Homo sapiens: one gene and its partners. The protein of the gene in region 2 purifies or fractionates together with the protein of the main gene of each other region. This does not show direct contact. Each region holds a gene or a part of one and is shown on either strand. Other genes may lie near its edges.

What was found.
Region 1: the proteins of KIAA1143 (region 2) and DHX35 purify together in Homo sapiens (affinity purification with mass spectrometry; 2 studies listed by BioGRID and IntAct, with this or other methods). This does not show direct contact.
Region 3: the proteins of KIAA1143 (region 2) and AQR purify together in Homo sapiens (affinity purification with mass spectrometry; 2 studies listed by BioGRID and IntAct, with this or other methods). This does not show direct contact.
Region 4: the proteins of KIAA1143 (region 2) and EAPP purify together in Homo sapiens (affinity purification with mass spectrometry; 2 studies listed by BioGRID and IntAct, with this or other methods). This does not show direct contact.

The regions. Positions count from the first base shown.
Region 1 is NC_000020.11:38,961,003-38,965,153, reverse strand, and holds the start of DHX35 (probable ATP-dependent RNA helicase DHX35), read right to left. Parts: upstream 2,811-4,151; 5' UTR 2,787-2,810; coding exon 2,747-2,786; intron 1-2,746. UniProt on the Homo sapiens protein: May be involved in pre-mRNA splicing.
Region 2 is NC_000003.12:44,748,236-44,751,631, forward strand, and holds the end of KIAA1143 (uncharacterized protein KIAA1143), read right to left. Parts: 3' UTR 509-3,396; downstream 1-508.
Region 3 is NC_000015.10:34,907,233-34,910,752, forward strand, and holds part of AQR (RNA helicase aquarius), read right to left. Parts: intron 3,082-3,520; coding exon 2,903-3,081; intron 1-2,902.
Region 4 is NC_000014.9:34,515,692-34,519,211, forward strand, and holds the end of EAPP (E2F-associated phosphoprotein), read right to left. Parts: intron 896-3,520; coding exon 619-895; 3' UTR 247-618; downstream 1-246. UniProt on the Homo sapiens protein: May play an important role in the fine-tuning of both major E2F1 activities, the regulation of the cell-cycle and the induction of apoptosis. Promotes S-phase entry, and inhibits p14(ARP) expression.

The DNA of each region.
Region 1 (4,151 bases), on a different chromosome or scaffold from region 2:
AGTGGTTCCCAAATTTTGATGCATGCTGGAATTCCTTAGAGACTTTAAAAAACACTGATGCCTGGCTCCTAGGCCTCCAAAGTTCTAATTTATTGGTGTGAGGTGCAAGTGCACATCAGGACTTTTCAGAGCTTCCCAAGTGATTCAACTATAAAGCAAAATTAGAGAATCACTAACCTAGACAGTCACCCAGCCCAGAAATCTGAGTTATTACTGACTTCATCTTCTCCCACATCTTCCTCTAAAATGTCTCTCCAACAGGCACCTCCTCTAAGCTCCCAGGTCAGAATTAAGGTTTTTAACATCCCTCCTGGATTTCACTAGTACCTTCTCTAATTTCCTCCTCCATCCACTCTCTACTCCACTGCCAGTGTTATCTTTCTAAAGTAAACCTGATTTGTTCCTGCTTAAAAACACTGAAGTCAGGCCAGGCCCAGTGGCTCACGCCTGTAATCCCAACACTTTGGGAGGCCGAGGTGGGCAGATCACGGGATCAAAAGATTGAGATCATCCTGGCCACCATGCTGAAACTCCATCTCTACTAAAAATACAAAAATTAGCTAGGTGTGGTGGCACACACCTGTAGTCCCAGCTACTCAGGAGGCTGAGGCAGGAGAATCGCTTGAACCTGGGAGGTGGAAGTTCCAGTGAGCCGAGATTGCGCCACTGCACTCCAGCCTGGGCGGCTGAGCCAGACTCCATCTCAAAAAAAAAAAAGAAAGAAAACAAAAAAACAGTGAAGTCTAAACTTTTTAACTTGTCATGAAGACCTTTCACAATGAGGCCCTTACCTACTTTTCTAGCTTCATCTCCTGTCATACCCCAAAATATACCCTAGCACTTAACACTATCACACTGCTCTGTTATTTTGGCTTTCTGGACATTCTAAAGGCACAAATCCCATTCTGCCTTTGTTCATGCTGCACCCTTTGCTTCGAGTTCCATTTCTCTATGAAACAAAACCTTATTCATCCTTTAATGTTCACTCCAAAAATACCACCTTAATGAAGTATTTCTTATCCATACATTCAACTTTCCCTCCCTCTTCCATACTTCCATATAATTATAATAGTAACCTATCTAGTGCCAAGATCCTGTTGTGTGTTATTCTCATTTAAACCTCACAACACTACTTTGGGTAGGGTAGGTATTATACCCAATTTACAGATGGAGTAACTGAGACTTTGAGAATTTAAGTGACTATCAAGTCATCAACTTAGTAAGTGGTAGACATGATGGGCACTGCAGTCTGACTCTAGAGCTCATCTTCTTTACCACCACCTTACTCTGTCTCATTGTAAAATCTCTTCTAGAGGACATCTAACTTTATATTCAATTAAGAGAGAGACAGTAACTTGAGAGCAGAGCCCTGAGCATCTGTATTTGTCTCCTGAACACAGGATTAGGTTTTCAATAAGTGTACCCTCAATGGATGAACTAAATAATGAAATAGAACTCTTAAGAGTAATTCCACGTTCTTTAACCAAAATAGTACCCTGGTCTGATTTCAAACAATTAATTCAGCTCTTTATTATACCTAACACTTTCACCTGTTACTAAAAGCGTGAATAAATTAAAAGTATTCATTACTTAGTAAGTTCCTAGTTTTGGATGCAAATAAAACTCAGGATGGATAATTGGCTGATGACTTGAAATGCTGAACCATAAAACTGTCAAGTGACAGACTACAAATTTTTAAAAAGCATTAAACATATCTCTTGCTTGGGTTTATCTCTCACATCACTTATATGCATGGTCAGAATTTCAGAGAACCACTGAAAAATTAAAAGCTTTGCTTATATTACATTCTTGGTGTCATTTCATTTTTGCTGCAATATACTTTGCACATCCAGACCTGCAGGGGTGCAGGTGGTAGAAAAAAATCAAGCTGGTAGCTGTAATTTAAAAACTTTTGTTTTTTACAAGAAACTGTTTGCAGAGAGGAAGTAATGCATCTAGTACGGTCTGGCATATGCACATTCAGTAAAAACCTGATTAATGAGTAAATATCAAGACAAAACAAGTAAAGCATTTTGTGATTGTGATTCGTGTTAGTCTGTAAGAGAGGAAGTGGCTGGCAGCCAATATGAAGGACTGTTCCCTTTTCTAGTAGACATTCGGAGTGGACAACAATTATCCTAAAAGAAAATAACACACTTTCCCTTTTTTTGAGCATTTATTCTAAGTCTGACAACGCGTTCTGCTTGTCATTTAAGCCCACAGCATAGAAGCTATTGTTCTGCCCACTTTACAGGTAAAGAAGTCATGGCTCAGAGGCATTAAGTGACTCGCCCAAGGTCACCCTACTACAAGGCAGAGACGAAAATTCGAACCCGGACAGTCTGACTCCATAACTTGGGCTTGCAAGCCTCCAGCAGCGAGCAGCATTGTCTGTCGGGCCACAGCGCAACCCCAGGGCGCTAACGAGACACGAGAGGGAGCTTTAGGATTCCCCATCTCGCGGGGTGGGCAGGACAAGCATCAGTAACGAGGAAGACGAGGCCTGAGGAGGCTGGACCACTTTAACAAGGTCACAAAGAGTTTCTGCTCACGCTAGGGGAGCACCCCCAAATCCCTCGGGACCACTGGGGAGCCTGAGCCAGAGCTCCCCCCGCACAGAGGCGGCAGCGCCCAGCTCGCCGAGGTCAGGCCTGCGAGCAGGTCTGCTGGCCCCAGGGCGCCGGCCGCGGCGCCAAGACCGAAGTCAGGCCGCCGCATCTGCCCAGCGTTCCACCAAGGGCCTTACCGGGTCGCCAGAACTTCACCGGTCCCACGGGCGCAGCCATGTTGGGGTAAAAGGTCACGAGGCTAGCTCCACCCCACCGTCGCGCGCTAGGCCCCCAGGGCCCGGAGGGCGTGGCCCCCGAAGAGCCGCTGCCCAGACGGATCGCGCCGTGTGACGGCCACGCCCCCACAGCTACCGCCCCCGTCTGAGCCACGTGACCCACTTCCAGGCTCCGGCGAGCGCACCGGCCCCGCCCCCGAGCCCACGTGACCCTGCTCAGCCATTTTGGAGAAAAGGGCGCGCTCCTCCGCCTACCTCTTGAGCGTGGAGGGTAGATGCTTCAGGTGACCTTTTACGAGCGTGGCGTGTCCTGGATGGCGGCCGCACACTTAGGAAGAACGGGCTTTGGGAGAGGACCGCTGGCCCGAGAGTGGAACCTTGCACGCACTGGGCGTTGAAGCAGTGCTTTCTGGATTAAATACGAAATACTGATGTCACAAGCTACCTCAACTTGTCGACTTCTGTTTTATTCTCAATTTCAAATTGAAGGGTAATAATAGGAACTACCTCGTGGGTTGTATTTGTCAGTAAATATTGCGCGCCTGCTGTGGGCCCAGGTAGTGCGGCACAGTGCCCCAAATAAAACAATGCGAAATGATATGGAAGTCTTCAGGGACCTTGAGGGCAAAACGGAAAAACGGACTGGGGGTGGGGTGGAGCGAATGGGTTGGCAGAAGAGACTGAAAATGGGTAGATCAATTAAGGTAGTCCACCAACTCAGTGCTTCCTCCAATTTGATACCCTTGAGTCAAATGCTTGTTAAAAACACAGATTCTAGGCCTTGATCCAATTCTGAATCGATGTCCTGGAGCATGGCTTGGGAACCTGCATTTTGAGAAGCTCCTGAATTCTTCAGATTAACAAATTTGGGAAAGATTACACTAATCCATCAGACGAAAGGTGAGGTCAAAGAAAAAGAAATTACAGTAATCCAAAGGAGCGCTAAGAAGGGGTGATGAGCTCAAGTGGAGGAAATAACTTTCTAGGTAGGCAACTAATTGGAAGGAAGTGAGAGGCTTCAGAATCTATGCATTTTTAAAGCTGTGAAGAAAATTCTGAATTCTTTGAAAGAAGTGGCATCATTATGGCAAGAGCAGGGGCTTTTGTGGACAACCAGTCCAGACTTGGAATCGTAACTTTGCCATTTCCTAGCTCCTAGCTGTCATTTAATTTTAGTTGTAAAATGAGGTTTAAAGAGGTATTACATGAGATAACATGTAAAGTACCTAACAGTGCAAAACATAGCAGGCACTGAATCAATGTTAGCTCTCATTACCTCAACTCAGAGCAAATCCACCAGGGGGAAAAAAATCTGAATTTACCTGCATAGGTTCATGTAAGAATCTTCTTTGATTTATTTTTATAG
Region 2 (3,396 bases):
GTGAGCAAAACCACATTCACATAACTTTTATTATAGTATATTGTTATAATTGTTCTATTTTATTGTTGTTAGCAAGCGAAACCATTCACATAACTTTTATTATAGTATATTGTTATAATTGTTCTACTGTATTATTATTGTTAATCTCTACTGTGCCTAATTTATAAACTTTACCATAGGTATGTACATATAGGAAAAAACATACTACATATAAAGTTTAGTATTACCTGTGGTTTCAGGCATCCACTGGAGGTCTTGGAATGTATTCCCCATGGATAAGGGAGGACTACTATAGTCTTTATCAGTGGTTCTCAAACGTGAGTGAATATCAGAACCACCTGGCTGGCATGTTACAGTGATTACTGGGCCTTACATACAGTTTCTGATTCAGCAGGCAAGGACCAAGATTTTAATTTTTAGGTTTCTAAGGGGTTCTGATGCTGATGGTACAGGGTCTACACATGAGACCTACTCATCTATAAAAAGAAAATTACAGACAACACTCTCATTCATTTTAACTATGTTTATTGTGCACTTAGTAGGCCAGATACTCTTCTGATATTTGAGAATACAGTGGTGAATAACACAAACTCCATGCTTTCAAGATTCCCACACCCAGATACTAAGACATATTAAAATTTACAGCAATTAAAACAGTGTAGTTTGGTACAATAACACATATAGCAATGATACAAATTAGGGGAAAAAACCCTGGCTTCTATAACAAGTGAGTATACATTAAAGACAGTATTGCAGAATGGCTTCAGGATTAATTTGATTAATTTAGAGAGAGCCTATTTCAGGTCTTCCTAGCTCATCCACACACATCACCTTTCAGTGTTCTTTATAGGTACTTAAAACTTAAAAAAAGGCCCAGGCGCGGTGGCTCCTGCCTGTAATCCCAGCACTTTGGGAGGCCGAGGCAGGTGGATCATGAGGTCAGGAGATTGAGACCATCCTGGCTAACAAAGTGAAACCCCGTCTCTATTAAAAATACAAAAAAATTAGCCGGGCGTGGTGGCGGGCGACTGTAGTCCCAGATACTTGGGAGGCTGAGGCAAGAGAATGGTGTGAACCCAGGAGGCGGAGCTTGCAGTGAGCTGAGATCGCGCCACTGCACTCCAGCCTGGGTGACAGAGCGAGACTCTGTCTCAAAAAAACAAAACAAAACAAACTTAAAAAAGATAATGTGGCACCAAATTTGTAAGATACTTTGAAATTCATAATTTCAGATGGATGTGGCTGGTAAGGATCTTAACAAGCCCCCAGTTTGGGCTGACTTTTACTAATGAGGAAAATTGTTAGGATTAAGCAGGGTCTTGAGGAATCACCTCTAAAGGCTCAGACTTTAAAGTGCTTCCCCTCCCTTCCCTACCCCAACATTTGGAGAAATCTCTCACTAGATGGCCTTTCAAATAAATGAGAAACACATGGTTCTAGGACAATTGATTATTTGAGAAAAAAGTATACTCTAATAAATTCCAGATAGAATAAAGGTTAATGTGAATAAACAAAAACAAAGAGAATATGGGTAATTCTTTTTTTAAAATTTATTTCTATTTTTTATTTTTTTTGAGACAGTTCTTACTCTGTTGCCCAGGCTGGAGTGCAGTGGTGCAATCATAGCTCACTGCAGCGTTGAACTCCTGGGCCCAAGCCATCCTCCTGCTTAGCCTCCTGAGCAGCTGGGACTACAGGTGTGTGTCGCTACACCTGGCTATTTTTTATTTTTTGTAGAGATAGGGGTATTGCTTTGTCGCCCAGGCTGGGCTCAGATTCCTGGCTTCAAGCAATTCTCCCACCTTGGCTTCCCAAAGTGTTGGGATTACAAGCATGAGCCATTGTGTCTGGCCTGGGTGATTCTTTATCTGACATAGAGGTTGGGAAACAGAACAACAAAAAAAAATTGATAAATTACATAACTTACAAATTAGTAAGAAAGATATGACCATACTAATGGAAAAAAGTTAATTCAAAAACTTTTGACCTTAAACTAACTTTTTGGATATTAGGCTTCCTGAAGTTCAAGAGTGACATATTAGGCTTATATTAGGCTTATTTGTAATGTTTGAATTATACAGGAAACATTGTCAAGTGTGAGGTGGTGTTTAGCTTCCTTTGGGTTATACTGATAGAGATTTGTTGTTAATATGTGTTCCAGGATTGTATGAGAGTTCTAAAATTCTGATATGTCTTAATATATGTTGTAATGATTATGTTAAATTGTTGTAAGCCACAGAAATAGCCACATTTGTCAACTGTGTCTTTATGGCTGTCTTAAGACTTTTGTCATCCATAATTGATGTTTTGCTCTGATCCTTCTCAAAAAAAAAAAGTGACTTATAATCAGCTACAGTCCAAGGCTTACTTCTTTGGAGTTCATGAAAAGAACTCTTGAATGCAGGTTTCTGGTAACTTTGGAGAGTGTGCCATTGGATTAGACAGAAAACTTCCAAGGCACTAATTGAAAGGCTGATGTGTTCATAAAGATGAATATGAAGTAGAGCAGGAGTTGATTACATGGACTGAAATGAACTAATGGAAGACTGAAATAATTTGTATGGCTTTTGTTGTTTGAAATATTGCTACTTCTTTTTGTTTTTTCAGAGTCTGAATAATCTTTTTATTTTGAGCTATTTATAGCCTTGAAATACACTTTAAGTGTATTGAGTATTCTAATTTCTCCAGAATTTGTAAACTATTTATGAATATTCTTAATTCATGGCATTTGTCTGTATAAAGTTAATAACCACGTTTTCTTTTGTAATAGGGCACAATTGAAACCGGTTACTTTCTCAGGACTTTGACTGAAATGGCCTTGTGAAATGTTCTAGCAAAGCCAATCTAGGAGAGTCTATATGGACAATGATTCTTGTTGCACTTTGTGTGGGTAATCAGGCCCAGTATATGGGACTGCAGTTTATTTTGAAGTTAGGTCGGTTCTGCTGTGATTTGTCTTTGGTGGAAGTGGTAGACTGGAGACAGAAATATTGTATGTCCCTAAATTAATATAGCTCCCAACAACCAATCCCTCATTATACCTTTAACTGCAACCACCAGACACAACGGCTAGGAATAACAGCAGAGGTAGGAATGGGAGTTAGCGGGATTGCAACTTCCCTATCCTATTACCAACGCTTGTCCAAGGATTTTATGGAAAGCCTGGATAACATTGCTCAAAGTATTGTCACCTTACAAATTCGGATAGGCTCCTTGGCAGTGGTCGCTTTGCAAAATCGAAGGGGACTAGATCTCCTAACTGCTGAAACAGGTGGCTTATGTATTTTCCTAGAAGAAGAATGCTGTTTTGATGTCAACCAATCAGGATTAGTAAGGGACACCACCTGAAAACTAGCTGACTGGGCCTCTAAAATATGACAACAGCTGGGGCACCTA
Region 3 (3,520 bases), on a different chromosome or scaffold from region 2:
CTGAATATATACAGTTTCAGTTGGCAAATCGTGAACATTTTTATAAGTGAATGTCAAGAAAAAGGAGACTTGTGCCAGAGTCCACAGCTTCTTGGTCACTAGACCCAATAAAGAACTCAAATGGCTTCCCAGCTCTATTAAAAGTAGAGAAACTGGAAGACAAGGATTATAAAATTAGACCTCACAGCATGTAATGCTACACCACTTAATCTTCATTCCATTTCTGATGTTTTTGTTAGCCATTACATGACATAAATGTAAATGTAAACAGTCTGCTTGCTCACAACCTTGTTAACAACAAACACAATGAAATCAAATCAACAATGTGGGCATATGGCTAATAGTACTGAAAATATTTTGGTTTGTTTTAATTGGGGGACTGGTTAGAGTATGGGTAAAGGTAGAAATAATAACTCTATTCATAATACTGACTTAATTATTTCCCAATAAATTCTATGCAAAGCAGCAAGAGAAGTAATGAGAATGAATGGGAATCATCCTACTCTCTGAGTTGTACTACCTGTGTGATGTCTGATCTGCACAGCTCATTAAAACTTCTAAGTCTTACAGCCAAAGAAGTGGTCCTGAGAAGTCATTTATCCTCTCCCAAGATAGGAGTTACTTTTTGGCATCACTGAGGGATGACCTCTTGTTCCTTCCTAAAACAAACCACTTTACTCTGGGACATCTTAGATCCACATTTTTTAAAATCCTATATGTCTCTCTCCTTGCAACCATTTGTATCCACCCTATCCTAGCTGTGCTTTCTGGAGCAAATCTGGCATTTCCATTTCATGAATTCTGTTTCCTTAACTTTAAATGAGAATATTGAAGAAGATAAGGGCTTGAGGTTCACACCTTTTCAAAGGGACAAAAGGAATGTTTTATGGTATTTAGTTTAATAATCTTTAAAATTTACTTTTATAAAACAATATTCAGCTGGGCACGGTGGCTCACGCCTGTAATCCCAGCACTTTAGGAAGCTGAGGCAGGTGGATCACAAGACCAGCCTGGCCAAGATGGTGAAACCCCGTCTCTACTAAAAATACAAAAAATTAGCTGGGCGTGGTGGCGGGTGCCTGTAATCCCAGCTACTCGGGAGGCTGAGGCAGAGAATTGTTTGAACCCAGGAGGTGGAGGTTGCAGTGAGCCGAGATTGTGCCACTGCCCTCCAGACTGGGCGACAGAGTGAGACTCCGTCTAAAAAAAAAAAAAATGTATTATTGTTTACAGAATCTCTCCTTTTTACTCCATTTTCTATTTGGCTACCCTATCTGTGATCAATATAGGGGCTGGTTTTTGGCCCAGGCCTCCCATAAAACACTTTTCTCTCCATCATACCCCAGATTATCACTCATCCCACAATACCCTATTGTGCCCTATCTTGCCCATCAAAATGTACCCTGTCCAGTTCTCATTCTACCAGAGGCTGATGTTTAAAAGAAAAAAAGACTGTCTCATGTCCTTCTGAAAGCAGTCAGTAATGGGGGAAGTGGCCTGTTTTTAAACATCCTTTTGTTTTCCTTAACACCAAAATGCAGACCTCTCATCTATAAATTCCTATAGAGTCCTTTAAAATAAACAAAATTCCAACTATCTACTACTTCTGGGGGTACCCAGTAAGTTATCTCAGTTTATTACCCACAGTGTTTAATATCTCCTTAAGCTTCAAGGAATAATAAATATGAGACCTTCTCCAGCAACTTAATGGCTTTCTCGAGGCTCAGCAATAATAAAGGTGCACATTAGTCTAGATGAGTAATATACCAGGATGGAACTCTTTTGAAGGATACAAGGGTTATAAAACAATCTGTCATAAACTATACCCGCTACAGTAGGCATTTGTTAAACATTTGGCTAGCTTTGTTGCTGGATTCCTTCAGAATTCTTTGATATAGTTCCCATGATTATAAACAGCTACACTGGTAGTAATAATTTCTGAAAACAGATCCATTAAGGGACATCCTTTCCTTCTGGCATGCCAAGAAGGTAAAAGGAGGTAAAACCTACTGACTACTGTTTCTCAAAACAGGGCTTTAAGTAAGACCTCTCACAGGACAGCTGGGAGAAAAATATAAAACTGCCTATTAGAAATCAGTTCATATGTCACTTCTGGCAGAGGTCTTATTGATGTTTTAACTCTATTGGACTTAGTAATTTTGAACATATCTGCCTCCAAAACAAATTAATTTTGACATGGAACTCTAATCCTTAAAATCTTGCCTAGCAAAAATAGGAGGAATAACTCCTTTAATTTCTTTGCAATTATTATATATCCTTGACTACATTTGACTTCACTGACTCTTTATCCTTTCTGCCTTAGGCGCAAATAAACTATTATTTATTTCTGAATTGTTTCACTATAGCCCTGCCCACCCCCACATATTCTTTTTAAGCTTGCCTAATTTTTATTTTCCACAAAGTGTATGTATTTCTATTTTTTTCACCTTGGCTACTTTTATCTTTTGAAAAATACCAATTTTCCTTACTGCTCTGCATGTTTGTATGTTATATGTGGGCTTTCTCCCTGCTCTTTGGTGAACACTAATATTTTTATTCTTTTATATTGATGCCAGAAATCCATAAATATTATTTTGCTAAATTTAAGACTTAAAATGCTCTCCTCTAGGCTTTGCAAACTTCAGTTTTCAAAACGTTGATATGTATGCAATTTTATACTTTTTATTAAAGTATTAAGATACCTAAATATTCTTGTATGATCCCTGGTATTTTTAAAACTAATAATTAGAAAAAAAGTTGCTATTCTTTAAATCAAATTTCAAGGATAACGCTTAATAAAAGCTTTAAAGGATAACATTTAGTAAAAGTACTTTGTTAATGCTCTAAGTGAAAGTTCATAACAAGGCAAAAGGTAATGTCACTTTTTGAAATACAAACTTACCTTCCCATTCATCTTTGATGTGATCTCTGACATTGAGATTTATGGTAACATCTGCACGAACTCGGGTTGGCCAGTTTTCACCTATGTTGGGTTTGGCCACTTCAACGACAGTGAAAGCCACAATGGGCTGGGCCATTCGCGCCCAACCACCAAACACTACACCGCCATATTCAGATTGCCTGAAACCAAAGAAATGGATGATTACTCAAACAAAAAATAATTTATCCCCAACTTTTAGACAAGTTAAAACTAGTAAGTAGGAATACTGTTCAGCTAGTATTTAAGTCCTAATATTAGTAACTCTTATTTCTTAACTTAAAAAAAAGAAAACCTTTAACTCTCAAAGTATGCAAAGTATATAAGATAGCATGAAACAGGGATATGATAGCATGAAACAGGCAAACATGGTCCAGAAAAGAAAGAGAAGTAGAGGAATATCTCCTCTCCAACCTAAGAAAAAAGCTAACCCTATGTACATAAGAGCATTCTGGGGCTGAGCCATTTTATCAAAGAAATAAATAATCCAGCACACTTAGTTTTATTTCAGCTTTATTGACGTATACTTGACAAATAAAAATTGTATATAGTTAAGGAATACAATGTGATGTTTTAAACTAT
Region 4 (3,520 bases), on a different chromosome or scaffold from region 2:
CCAGTTGATTTTTCTATTTTTAGTAGAGACAGACAGCGTTTCACCATGTTGGTCAGGCTGGTCTCAAACTCCTAAACTCCTGAACTCCTGATCCACCCGCCTTGACCTCCCAAAGTGCTGGGATTACAGGCAGGAGCCAAAGCTACCAGCCTATTCCACGCAATTGTAACAGTTACTAAATACTGTCATTCATCATGTGGGGTGGGGGTGAATAAAGATACATCTTAGCAAAAACAATACAGACAATTCAGGAAAGAGTTTCCAGTTTAATTACATCAAAGCTATATCCAAAATAAAAATAACACTCAGAAACAAAGATTGCTTATAATTCCAGAACATTTTAATTCTACAGAGCTTTAATAAAAAGCCCGACAGTTTCCAAATGTTCATCAAAAACAGAATGAATATCAGTCCCATCAATAAGGGGGAAAATCAAAGAAAAAAAAAAGGAGAGGGTGAGAGATGTAAGAGATGAATGAAGGTTGACAACTATTCTCCTTTAAAAAGAGAAACACTGCTTCCTCAATGTCACTGAAGGATATGAACAGGCAAGAGGAAAGTAACTGTCCATATTTGCCTTATATACAGTATTGGGTAATTAAATGCCAGTTGGGCTGTTTAGGAATGGCTTGCTAAAACATTGAAAAAATGAAAGACTTCATCCTTGTCGTAGACTGCCACTTCAGTGGAACATTCAGTGCACATGACTGGGTGATAGATTTCTTCCACATCTGTCTCTGCCTTCTCGGCAGCATCTTCCCGGTTAGACCTCATCTTCTTATGGACCCGCCTTTTCTTCCTGTTCTCTGAGGCTTTATATCTTAGAACCTCCTCTTTGTTAATAGAACAATTCATTACAAACATTGCTCTATATTGAGTTTTGTATGATTCATGCCTAAGAGAAAAATGAAATGGAGAATTGGGGTTTATGTTCTATGTTAATAGTTTATCCATTTAGATAAAATTTGAGAATACCAAAAACTTACTGAAATACCAACCAAAGACAAGACACAGGAACAAAACAGCAAGTTTAAAGAAATTTTAAACAGTTGTTTTAAGAATAATTAAAACTTGTGAACACAGCTCACTGCAGCCTTGAACTCTTAGCCTCAAGTGATCCTCCTGCCTCAGCCTCCCTGGTAGCTGGGATTACAGGCACAAGCCACTGCACCAGGCAGAAGAAACATTTTAGTATGTAACAGTGTAAGGAAGAAATGTATCCTCTTTCCTTCTGCTTTTTGAAAGTAACTTTTTTTTTTTTTTTGAGATGGAGTCTCGCTCTGTCGCCCAGGCTGGAGTGCAGTGGCGCGATCTCGGCTCACTGCAAGCTCCGTCTCCTGGGTTCACGCCATTCTCCTGCCTCAGCCTCCCGAGTAGCTGGGACTACAGGCGCCCGCCACCATGCCTGGCTAATTTTTTTGTATTTTTAGTAGAGATGGGGTTTCATTGTGTTAGCCAGGATGGTCTCGATCTTCTGACCTTGTGATCTGCCCGCCTCGGCCTCCCAAAGTGCTGGGATTTCAGGCGTGAGCCACCGCACCCAGACGATTCTATTTCTTTTTTTTTTTTTTTTTGAGATGGGGTTTCACTCTTGTTGTCCAGGCTGGAGTGCAATGGCGTGATCTCAGCTCACCACAACCTCTGCCCCCCGGGTTCAAGTGATTCTCCTGCCTCAGCCTCCCAAGTAGCTGGGATTACAGGAATGCACCACCACACCTGGCTAATTTTGTATTTTTTAGTAGAGACAGGGTTTCACTATGTTGGTCAGTTTCATCTTGAACTCCTGACCTCAGGTAATCTGTCCACCTCGGCCTCCTAAAGTGCTGGGATTACAGGCATGAGCCACCGTGCCTAGCCTGATTCCTTGTATTTCTGTGGTCTCAGTTGTTATGCCTTCTTTTCTATTTCTAATTTATTTGGGCCTTCTCTCTTTTTTTCTAAGAGGTTTGTCAATTGTATCTTTTAAAATTATCAACTTTTAATTTCATTAATCTTCTGGCTTGTTTGTTTGGGTTTTTTGGGGTCTCAATTTCATTCATTCCTGCCTTGATCTTTATTATTTCTTTCCTTTTATTTTATTTAATAAATTAATTTTTTTTTTGAGATGGAGTCTCGCTCTGTCACCCAGGCTGGAGTGCAATGGTGTGATCTCGGCTCACTGCAACCTCTGCCTCCCGGGTTCAAGCGATTCTCCTGCCTCAGCCTCCTGAGTAGCTGGGATTAAAGGTGTACGCCACCACACTTGGCTCATTTTTGTATTTTTAGTAGAGACAGGGTTTCACCAGGTTGGTCAGGCTGGTCTCAAACTCCTGACCTCGTGATCTGCCTGCTTTAGCCTCCCAAAGTGCTGGGATTACAGGTGTGAGCCACCATGCCCAGCCTCTTTCCTTCTATTAATGTTGGATTTGGTCTGTCCTTGCTTTTCTAGTTCCTTGAGGTGTATCATTAGATTATTTGGGTGAAATGTTCTGTAAATGTCAGTTAGGCTTCTTTGGTCTACTGTGTAGTTTAACTCTGATGTTTCTTTATGGTTTTCTATCTGGATGATCTGTCCATTACTGAGAGTGGAGTGTTGAAGTCCCCTACTATTATTGTATTGCAATACTAATACTGTATTGTATCTCTCCCTTTAGATTTTTTTTTTTTTTTTTTTTTTTTTTTGAGATGGAGTCTCACTCTGTCACCCAGGCTGCAGTGCAATAGCACGATCTTGGCTCACTGCAACCTTCACCTCCCAGCTTCAAGTGATTCTCCCACCTCAGCCTCCTGAGTAGCTAGATTACAGGCACCCGCCATCATGCCCAGCTAATTTTGGTATTTTTGTGGAGATGGGGTTTCACCATGTTGGCCAGGCTGGTCTCAATCTCCTGACGTTGTGATCCACCAACCTCGGCCTCCTGAAGTGTTGGGATTACAGGCGTGAGCCACTGCGCCCAGCCCCTTTGGATCTATTAATGTTTATATACCTGGGAGTTCCAATGTTGGCTGCATAGATATTTATACTGTTATATAAATTCCTCTTGCTGAATTGACCCCTTTATATAGTAAACTTCTTTGTTTCCTTTTTACAGTCCTTGATTGTAGTCTGTTTTAAGGACAGCTATTCCTATACTGGTTTCCAGCTGCATGAAATATCTTTTCCCATTCATGTTCAGTCCATGTGTCCTTACAAGTGAAGCAAGTTTCTTCTAGGCAGCATATAGTTGAGTCTTGTTTGTTGATCCATTCAGCCACTGTCTGCCTTTAAATTGGAGAAGTGAGTCCATTTACATTGTGTTAGTACTGATAAGTAAGGATTTGCTACTGATGTGGCTTGGGTCTGTGTCCCTGCCCCAATCTCATGTCAAATTGTAATCTCCAATGTTGGAGGTGGGACCTGGTGGGAGGTGACTAGATCTTGGGGGCAGACTTCCCCCTCGTGCTGCTCTTGTGATAGTGAGTACTCACAAGATTTGATTGTTTAAAAGTATGTGGCACCTCCCCTCTCTCTCTTCCTCTTGCTCTGGCCATGTAAGATGTG